Linked DNA regions of Homo sapiens: region 1 is linked to region 2. Evidence: fine-mapped expression QTL. A gene starts in region 2. The other region holds a variant in brackets. All regions are shown on one strand. Distances are from middle to middle.

The links. PIP is the estimated chance that this variant, and not a neighbour inherited with it, causes the effect. A credible set is the group of variants that fine-mapping cannot tell apart.
Region 1: its variant is the best candidate, but not a certain one, in a credible set for the expression of SEMA6A in cerebellum (GTEx, PIP 0.88).

What each region holds. Positions count from the first base shown.
Region 1 is chr5:116,642,788-116,648,163 of GRCh38, forward strand. No RefSeq gene overlaps it. Among named protein-coding and RNA genes, the nearest start is that of SEMA6A, 71 kb to the left of the region's middle. The variant AGTT/A (reference allele first, on the strand shown) is at 2,474.
Region 2 is chr5:116,572,138-116,577,513 of GRCh38, forward strand. SEMA6A (semaphorin 6A) reads right to left here and starts at 2,686. Exons shown (of 19, transcript NM_020796.5): 1 at 2,048-2,686. It overlaps SEMA6A-AS2 (SEMA6A antisense RNA 2), which reads left to right and starts at 2,281. Exons shown (of 3, transcript NR_147170.1): 1 at 2,281-2,402. RefSeq lists an enhancer at 1-744 and a silencer at 2,442-2,521.

The DNA of each region.
Region 1 (5,376 bases), 71 kb after region 2:
ATATCTCCTATCCCACATACTTTTCTATGATGAGACATTGGTAGTCCTACCATTGAGAGTTGGAATTGATATCTTCCCTTGAACCTGGATGGGCTTGTGACTCATATGTAACCAATACAGTACACAGTAGAAATAACGCTTTTAACTTCTGGGGCTAAGTCAGAAAAAGAGGTTCAAGTCTCCCCCTGTTTACTGGGACATCAGGTAAAAAGTCCATCAAGTGAGAAATTCAATTCCTCTGGGGCCACCATGCTTTGAGGAAGCTCAGGCCACATAGGGAGGTGATCTGTGGGTGCTTTGGTTGACATTCCCAGCTGAGGTCCTAGCTGATGGCCAGCATTGACAGCAGACATGTGAAGAAGGCACCTGCACATGATTCTAGCCCCCAGCTCTTGAGTCACCCCAGCCATTAGGTATTCCCAGCTCAGTCCCCAGACATCATGGAAAAGACGCAAGCCATCTCTGCTACACACTCTGAATTCCTTACCCTCTGAATCCATGAGCATAATACAATGGTCGTTTTACACCATTGAGTTGTGAAGTGATTTGCCGTGTAACAATAGTAACCAGAACAGAAGATTTCTTGAAAGAGAGAACATTCAAGCCAAGTTAACTTCAGATGTAAAAAAAGTGTAATATTAAATGAGCCTGGGTAATTGTATTCTCAATTGCGTAGGAAACTTTTTGAATTTCCCTTTTGCATTTGATGTTCTGGCTATTGAACATTCTTTTGTAGAAATATCTCTAGATGTCTATCTGATTCCAGAGCATTTACAAAGATTTTGGAATGCAGCTCTTTCTTGTGATTTGATTCTGAGATGACACAGCACCATCAAATACAACTTAGCAGAACCTAGCTTTTGAAGAGAGTAACTAACTTTCATACAAAAAGTTGACAACTTCATTAGCAGAGTTACCAGTACACATTTTATATAAAACTAACAATACTATTTACATGGTCACATAAAAAGCTTTGTAGGATATCTATCTATATCTATCATCTATCTATCTATCTATCTATCTATCTATCTATCATCTGCCTATTATCTATCCATCTATCTAAACAACAGGAACATATTAATGCATTGTTAGGCAATTTCATCATTTTGAGCAGTGGTCCCCCACATTTTTGGCACCAGGCATTGGTTTTGTGGAAGGCAATTTTTCCATGGACTGGGGCAGGGGAGGGGGATGGTTTTGGGATGATTCAAGCACATTACATTTATTGTGCACTTTATTTATATTATTATTGTATTGTAATATAATGAAATAATTATACAACTCACCACAATGTAGAATCAGTGGAAGCCCTAAGCTTCTTTCCTTGCAACTAGACAGTTCCCATCTGGGGGTGATGGGAGACAGTGATACCTGAAGTGTGTTGCTTATGTCCAGTCTACTCCATAATCTCGTTTTGGTTGCTGTCACTGCAGAAAACCCTGCTTCACAAAGATAGGATGTTGGAAATGGAAGCAGACTTTTCAGTGCTTCTGTGGTAATCTCAGGATATTCCATCTCGACTTTAATTCAGAACGTATGAAGATTTGAAGTTGCGTCAAACATACTTTTAAGGGCACCGCCATTTGCAATCTCAAGCAGTTGTCCTCTTCTACAACGGACAAAGTCAATTCCCCTGGCTTATTCACAAATGGGTGATGGATCCATTCCTTCCCAGTTCAGGGTCTTTTATGGTTGGGAAGCGTATAATCAGGGTTCTCCAGGGGACAGAATTAATAGGATATATCTATATATGAAAGAGAGTTTATTAGGGAGAATTGGCTCACATAATTACAAGGTGAAGTCCCATGATAGGCCATCTGCAAGCTGGGGAAGAAAGAAGTGAGTAGTGGCTCAGTTCAAGTCTAAAAGCCTCCAAGCCAGGGAATCTGACAGTGTAGCCTTCAGTCTGTGGCTGAAGGCCCGAGAGCCTCCAGCACTCACTGGTGTGAGTCCCAAAGTCTAAAGGCTGAAGAATCTGGAGTCTGATGTCCAACCGCAGGAGGAGCAGGAGGAAGCATCCAGCACAGGAAAAAGAAGGCAACCAGGAGACTCAGCAAGCAAGGTGTTTCCACCTTCTTCCCCTGCTTTGTTCTAGTCACGCTGGCAGACAATTGGATGGTGCCCACCCACATTGAGGGTGAGTCTTCCTCTCCCCATACACTGACTCAAATGCCTATCTCCTCTGGCAATACCCTCACAGACACATCCAGAAACAATACCCATCATCCAGGCATCCTTCAATCCAATCAAGTTGACACCTAATATTAATCACCACAGAAAGTAACGTTCAAACTCTTGAAAGCTGAGATAGGTGATCACGCACCAGCTGGGAGAAAGAAGGCCTTGGCTCAGACTCTTTCTTTCAAAATTTCTGCTAATGTTTGAAACATGTTAGAAATCCCAAAGTTCACTCATCAACCCATTGTTCCAGTTTGGTTTTGAAAGCAGCCACTTTATCTGCTGACTTGAACAC[AGTT/A]GTTGTTGTTATCCCCTGAAGTGACAGATTGAGTTCGTTGAGCAGGTTGAATGTGTCACACAAGTAAGCAAGTTTTGCAACCCATTCTGTGTCACTGAAATGTGCTGCCAGTGTTGCCTGTTTTTCTAAAAGAAATCTCTGGAGTGGCTCTCATAACTAAAAAACTCTGGCCAGTGATCTGCCTTGAGAAAGCCATCTCACTTCTGTGTATAAGAGAAGACATGTGTGCTCTGTATCCATCTCCTCTCAGAGCTGTGCAAACAGATGTGAGTTATGCGTATGCACTTTATTGTGGTTGATAATTTTAATCATATCCTACAAAATGTTGTTAAGTTCAGGTGACATTTTTTGGCTAGCCAGCATTTTTCTATGGATGACACAGTGCATAGACTAATATTCAGAGGCAACCTCTTTGAACCAAGCAGTGAAACCTGAAAGCTGTTTGGTCATGGCAGCTGCTCCATCCATGCATACAATGACACAGAATGACCAATTCCATTTTCCTAATGTGTAATCATTCAAAGACTTGAATAGTTCTGCAGCTGTGGTGTTAGTTGGCAACAAAAGCACACATAATATACCCCCATGCACATCCTCCTGAAAAATATATTGCACGAAAACAAGCATTGTTGCCTTGTTGTCAACATTGCTAGACTTGTCAACCTGGAATGTGTACCACAGTGACTCATTAATCCTCTCTAACAATTGTGCTTCAACATCCTCTGCTTTTTCATCAATTCATCCAGTTATGGTGCTAGCTGAATGAGGAACACAAGGCATATTTTGAACCGCAGCCTCTCCTAAAAGTTCACAACAAATGTCCTTAGCAGTGGGCAGGATCAACTCTTCACCAATAGTAAAGGGCTTCTTAGCTTTAGCAATGTGGTTAGCCACTAAGAATGATGCTTTCAGTGGAGACACATTTGATGAAATGGTGGCCTTCAATAATTGCTTCTGTTCTTTGTGTTCACAGTTTTTTTTCTTTTGAAAAATTCCACAGGCTTGTCTTTTAATGCAGGGTGCTTGGTCTCTATGTGGCGAAGCAGTTTTGAAGGTTTCATGGCTTCATTGAATAGCTGGTTGCCACACGCTATACAAAGCAGGTTTGGAGAATGTGAATCACCTGTTGCAATGAACCCATACTTTAAGGAGGACTCTTGGTATTGTCAAGTGCAGCTTTCTTTTTGTTGGCAGTCTTAGAGTCTTCTGCTGTCTCATCATTGGGTGTTTCCCCCTTTTGGAAGAAGCTCTCCAGTGATATTTGCTTTTTACTCATTTTGGCTAGGGTTATCTTGTGGACTTAGCAAAACTGTGACTGAGACAAGTGCACAGTGCAGAAAGAGGCATGAACAGAAATGGCAAATAAAATAATGGGTGGGCCACGCGTGGACTAAAATAAGTGTCAGATTCTGACTTAAACCCTGCCACTAGATGCAGCTGTACAATTGAAGTACATCAACTCACTTGCAACTATAAAGCTTGGCACCAGATGCAGTTTAATTGTCACTTGTCACTCACTGATAGGGTTTTGATATGAGTCTGCAAACAATTGACGTATTATGGTGTCTGCACAGTCAAACCTCTCTACTAATGTTAGTTGGTGTTTGCAGCCACTCCCCAGCACTAGCATCACCACCTCAGCTCCATCTCAGATCATCAGGCGTTAGATTCTCATAAGGAGCATGCAACCTAGACCCCTCACATGCACAGTTCACAACAGGGTTTGCGTTCCTACGAGAATCTATTGCTGCAACTGATCTGACAGGAGGTGAAGCTCACGCAGTAATGCGAGTGATAGGGAGTGGCTGTAAATACAGATGAAGCTTTATTTACTCACCCGCTGCTCACCTCCTGTTGTGCAACCCTGTTCCTAACAGGCCATTGACCAGTGCCAGTCTGTAGCTCAGAAGCTGAGGACCCTGTCATAGAGTGTACTTACATACGTAGATGGTATAGCCTATTACACACCCAGGCTATATGGTATATGCCTATTGCTCCTAGGATATAAACTATTACTGTACTGAATACTTCAGAGAATTGTAATACAATGGTAAGTATTTGTGTATCTAAACATATCGAGGCATAGAAGAGGTACAGTAAAAATATGGTGTTATAATCTCATGGGACCAGCATCATATATGGAGTCTGTTGTTGACTGAAACATTGTTATGGGCACATGACTATATATGATTTTTATAATTTACTTTTAAAACTAATTTTTGTTGTCACAACACTCATGCTTTTATTTTTTCCTTTAATTGTTTAAACTTTTGTTGACTTACCAAACCAAAGGGGAGAAATTTTTTTTTTTTTTTTTTTTTTTTTTTGAGAAGGAGTCTTGCTCTGTTGCCCAGGCTGGAGTGCACTGGCACAATCTCGGCTCACTGCAAGCTCCGCCACCCGGGTTCACGCCATTCTTCTGCCTCAGCCACCCGAGTACCTGGGACTACAGGCGCCCGCCACCATGCCCGGCTAATTTTTTGTATTTTTAGTAGAGACGGGGTTTCACCGTGTTAGCCAGGATGGTCTCGATTTCCTGACCTTGTGATCCACCCGCCTCGGCCTCCCAAAGTGCTGGGATTACAGGCATGAGCCACCGCGCCTGGCCGCAAAGGGGAGAAATTTTAAGTATGGTGGCTGTATACTTATTATTGGCTCATTTATCCTGGGCTATTCTGGCTTTTCTTGTGCAGTTGATTAACAGGTAATCAAACGGTTTGATTTCCGTGATTTCCTCTGTCTACCTCCCTGTGACTGCACAGATCTGTTCGTGTTGCCAGGCTGATTTTATAGTCAGGGTGCTCTGTTTGCATGTCTCTGGGACCAACAGTAGCCAACTCAAGGAAAAACCAGGAACAAAAAGAGGCTGCTTTTTTGGGATTTACTGCAAAGTAGTAGGA
Region 2 (5,376 bases):
TTCTGAGACCTGCTGGCACAACACTGCAAGTGGGTTAAACGGCTTTTCAGATCTGAGGTAAAGAAAGTTGTGCGTACAAGGGCGAGTGTGTGCGTGTGTGTGTCCATGCACGCCTGTGTTTTAAACCTTTCACAGATCGCATTCAGTAGCGTAAAAAAGCTGAGCGTAAAAAAAGGAGCGATCCCACTGTGGCTGTGCCTGGCCACCGCAGTTCCAAAGCAGCCACCTTTCTCCCAAAGACCGACGCGAAAAAGCCTGCAGGGCTCCCCAGTGCGATACAGGCCGGAGACTCCCTGGAAGTGCTTGCCCCGGCTGTGAAGACAGCGCCTCCAGTCTCCCATTCCTCTCCCGCTCCACGCACACCTGGCTCTGCTTCCTCCCTCCCTGGATAGCCACGCTGGGAAATCGTGCGCAGGGAGCAGATGGCTCGGGATTCTGCACCTGAAGCTGCCTACTTGCAAGCCACTGAGCCCCGGCCTGTGTCCACACGCACCTTCCCCACAGCCTCTGTCCACAGTGGCCGCACCTGCCTCCGGGGTCCTGCTTCCCCATTCATCCCTTCCCCGACTTGTCGAGCAAGTACCGCGGGCCAGGAGGTTCCACTCTCCAAAGGGCCGGGATCTAGCTCCTAGCTGCATCCCGAGCTGTCCGCATGATTCCCTCCAGGTCCGGCTTCCCTCAGACTGCACATGCTGAGCCCCAGTCCGGTCGTGCCTGCCGCCCCTGGCTTTCAGGGAAACTTTCCAGGAGCGCCTGGTCTAGTGACCCCGCCGCTGTAAAGTGGGAGGAGGCGCTGGGCGGAGGGGCGGCGAGGGAGCGGGAAAAACAGCGGAATTCTGTTTCCTTTCCCGACGTCCACAAGCCCGGGACCGCTCCCTGGCTCCCCCCGTGCCGCTCGGGTCTTGCGAGGAGGGAGGAGACCTCAGGATCCTGTTTTGCACCATCTCCCACAGCGAGGAGCTGAGCAAAACGCGGAGAATCGGGACAAGAGACACTTCCCGCCCCAGAAGGATCAGGCAGGGTGGGTGGGCACTGCCCGGCTTACTCTCCAGCGCCCCATTGCCCCCATGGTAGCGCCCTAGGACACAGTGAGGAGTCGGAACAGAGCCCTAGTCTGGGTTTCAAACCCAGGGCCATCTTCTGCCAGGTCTCTCACCCTTCCCCCTCCTGGGTCATCTTTCCAGAGCGAGACCGCGCTGATCTGGGAGGAGGGCGTACCGTGCGCCAGCCCGGTGCAAAGGGCTCGGTGCTTCAGGAGGGACGCAGCCGCGACGGGCTATATCCTTGCCGCTCGGGTTGGGAGCTGCGGCGGGGGACAGGACCCATGGCGGGGGCGCCGCGTCACCCGAACGGCTGCTCCCGGACACTTATTCGAGCAAACAAAGCCCGGAACCTCTGGTGGCAGCGGCCACAGGAGCCAGGATCTCACCGAGAGACAGGGCGCGCGGGTGCCTAGAGCCATTACAAGTTTCTTGCACTCCACGGAGCCCAGCCCAGACCCCACACTGACAACAAAAGATTCTCTCCGCTTCCACACCGTCTCCGCGGAACCCCTTCTCCCACCTGGCACTGGACGAAAACAGCGCTGTTATACCCAACCCCCTCCAGCCCTCGAGGGCAGAACCCCTTCCCCTGCCTTCGACACACCGGGCCAGGGAGCTTCCGAGAATCCCACCATTTAGGGCCCGCTCTGCTCCCTGCTGGGCACGCGGGAGGATGAGCCTTGGGTCTCGCACACACACCCCCAGGAGGAACAGCCATACGCGCCGTCGCGGCCCGGGGCGGCGCCGGGCGTGTGCGCAACGCGGGTGGGAAAGCTCTCGACGTGGAGCCGGACGCACTCTGGGGCGCAGGGCAGAGAGGAAAGGCAGGCAGGGCTCACGGCTGCTCCCCCAGGACCGGGCAAGGCTCGGGAAACAGAGACACAAGACAAAATAAAACGCAGGCACCACAAAGCCGACAGCACGCGCTAGCCACGGCCCCGGGACCCTCAGGCTGGAGTCCAGCTGCCCGGGAGGTGGGGCGCGCCCGGGCGCCCGGGGCGTACCTTTTCGGTGCATCGACGGACAGGCGGCCGGGGCTCGGAGCGAACTGGTACAGCGTGTATCCCATTTAGTAATCCATTATCGAGGGGATCTCTCCGGGCCGCGGGCTGCGCTCTCTCCTTCGCAAGCCTTTGTCATTCCTACATGTGTGCTTGTCTCTTTGGGGGAAATAGTCGCGGCGACTACTTTCTGGGATGCAAACGCGATGTGTTCATCTCCAATGACGAGCGGAGAAGGGGAGAGGAAAAAAGAAGCCAAAAAAAAAAAGAAGAAAAAGAAAAAGAAAACCAACAAGGAAGAGGGTAAATGTTCAAGAAACTCTTCTCCAAATCCAAATTCCACTTGGATTCCACTTCGGTGAGTCCCCTTGGTGGTGTCTGCGCCGATTAACAAGTCATTTCAGGGCGGGGGGCGGGGTGGGGGCTGGGGCAGGGGTGCAAGGCTCTGGCCCGGCTCTGCGGCCGGCAGCGCGGTGCCGCGGGTGTGGTGATGCTGGCCGCTGCTACACGCTGCTAAGCGGGCATCGCGGGCGACCGGCACCGCGGAGGAGCGCCGCTGCTGGGTTCCGAGCGCCTGGGCAGCCGAGTGCGCGGGGAGCGGAGTTGGCTGCAGCCTCACCCCGTGCCGCTCACTACTCCTCTGTCACCGGAGAGGCCGCCGCTCCCGGGCGGAGCCAAGTCCCGGACTGGATTGCGCAGATCGGACTCTCCTTCCGCAACTCCGCCTACTTTGGCTGGCGTCTCCTCCGACCCAAAGGAGAGCTGTGGTGTATGTGAGTGCGAGTGAGCGAGGCAGAGGCGGAGAAACTACGCGGTGTGGCTGCAGGTGGAGCCTTGGACCAACTGGCCAGCGCCGCTTCCTTCCACCAGGATTCCTGGCCCCACCGCGCGCTAGGCGGAGGCTCAGCGGGGGCGACTCTGGCTGGAGCCCAGCCCTCACCTCCCCCACCCCCACATCTGCTCTAGCTAGGAAAAAAAAAAAGAAAAAAAAAATCCCGGACAGCATTGCTGAGTCCTGCCAAATCAGAAAAATAAATAAAAATAGACGTAGTGCAGGAGCGAGTTACAAGAAAGGTTTTGTTCATCGATTTTCTTAAATGGAAAAGTTTTAAAGGATGAGGGTAAGTGAACGGCGAGCTTTTCTGATTCTGATTACTGTTATCAAGAGGTAGATTCCAGAAGCGATGGACGCTCTACGTAGTTAGATGAATTGGATAGAAGCCGGTGCGGTTAAAAATACACTTGGAAGATAAGAACACAGCTATTAATTACGCACATACACACGTTAATAAAGCATGTGAAGTAAGCAAATAAACTACAGTGCAGAGAATGGCGTTTTTAACGACGGCGATCTATTTTAAAACTTAATGAAGTTCACATTTTGTGGACTGGTCTTAGAAATAAGTAAACTTCAGAAATAACACGCATACAATTCCAGTGAGAACCCAAAAGGTTTATGGAAGAAGAAAATCGCAACCACTTCCAAGGCGCTATTGTTATGATCACATGAAGAATGGCAGGCACAGCCTTCTTTCACCACTTGAACTTTCAATAGCTACAAAGTCTTGCAGTTACAGGCTTGTGCCAACTCGTCGGGCCACACCACGTTCCCCTCCCCCTGCCGCTGCGCCCCGAAATCAACTGCGCGCCGCGGCTCTTGCTCCCCAAGGGGGCTTCGCAGATGGTACGGATCCTAGTCGCAACCTTTAAACAAAGTAACATCGGGCGGCCCAGCAGTTCTCGGAGAGATATTTACTAGTCATGGAGTTGGCTGAGAAAAGCAAGTGCGGAGATCGGGGTCTCAGTCCCACTTAGGCCGAGTTTCTTTATATTGGAAACTGTACCTGTTCCCTAATTGGGACTAAGACCACTAATAAGTCCACGTTCCCTCTTTGGTCGCTTCTCTAAGTACAGACATCTGCTTAAGAGGCTTCACGAAGAATAAATGCACATGGGTCAACACCCATTCCCCCCGCACCACTACCACCACCTGGAAAAGGTAGGGAGAATGGTAGGAAAAAAAGAAAAAATCAGTACCCCTGCTGTTCTCCAGAGCTGTCAGCAGGGGCCGCTATCCCCACCTTTCTCGGGCAAAGGCCTCTATAGACCTGGGGTAGTGGGGGGCGCGGCCCTAGGTGCGCGCGCAGCCCCCGCGGCTTCAAGAGCCAGCCTCGGGAGGGGGTTGGGGAGTGTGGGGCGGTGGGTAGGATTGCGCTTTCCCGCGGGTTGGGTGGGGGCCGGCTCCAGGACGTCTCCTCAGAATCCCGCGGGGTTAGGAGAAGGATCTGGCGGCCAAGACGGCTGGATCCCCGGCTGCGCTATTTAACACCCAGATTTTGGCTGATGACTGCAGGGTCAGTGTGAGCTGGTCCCCTGGCTCGTCCGTGCGCCCCAGGCGCGGTACTGCAGCCCCTTCGAAGCTCCGGACCCTTCGGCCTCCGGGGTTTTTTGTCCCGCGCTCCACCCAACCGGGGTCGCCGAGGCTCCTTCTTCGCTCCCCGCCGCCGATTTACATGCTAATTGTGTCTGGGAAAAGTTCTTAAATTGGCAGAATTAGGCAGAGCAAACGAATTGTTTCACAGGCCGAACTAAATTAATTTCGGGTTTAGCTCCTTCCCTTAGAGAAACAAACAATTAAGTTGTTTTATTTGCTTTATGGATATATTGGAAATGCCCCACAACGAGTTTCAGGATATTGTTTAAAGGGACATTATATTCAATATTAATACTTGCATGTTTAATTTGTAGTAACGCTGAGCCAAGAAGCGAGCGATTAAATTTACCTAATTTAAAATTATAGAATACGAGAGTTAAAGAATTGGAGTCTACTTTTCACAGTGAAGAAATACCACCCAGAATCTTCCTGGCAATTACTAGATCCTAGTCTCACCATCCAAGTAGGAGCCCTTCCTTCTGACCACGTGATATTACATTTCCACCTGCCAGAAAAGATGCTCCCGGAGCTGGAAGAAAAGCCAGCTATTGTCAGGCTCCCGAAACCCCCAGGGGAGCACCTGTGGGGAAGCCAGGCTATGAAACCTCATGATGTCATTTCCCCATAAGTGCGCCTCAGACTCACTTCCAGAAGCCTGCAGTAAGTTTTCAGTAAAACCACTGCCCCTTCAAAGCCTTTGAAGTCTGCAATTTATACCCTGTCCCTTCAGGAAAAGAAAGCCAAAGAGTTAAAGAATCACAGAGTGATGAGAAGGTGACTTCAGTGGTTTTTTTTAAAGTGACGTAAAATGGAGTGTTTGAGGCCCTGGTCTCTGGAGGCCATCTGCGGTTAATGTAACTTAGCTGGTGATCTTGGGCAAGTCACTTATCTCTGTGAA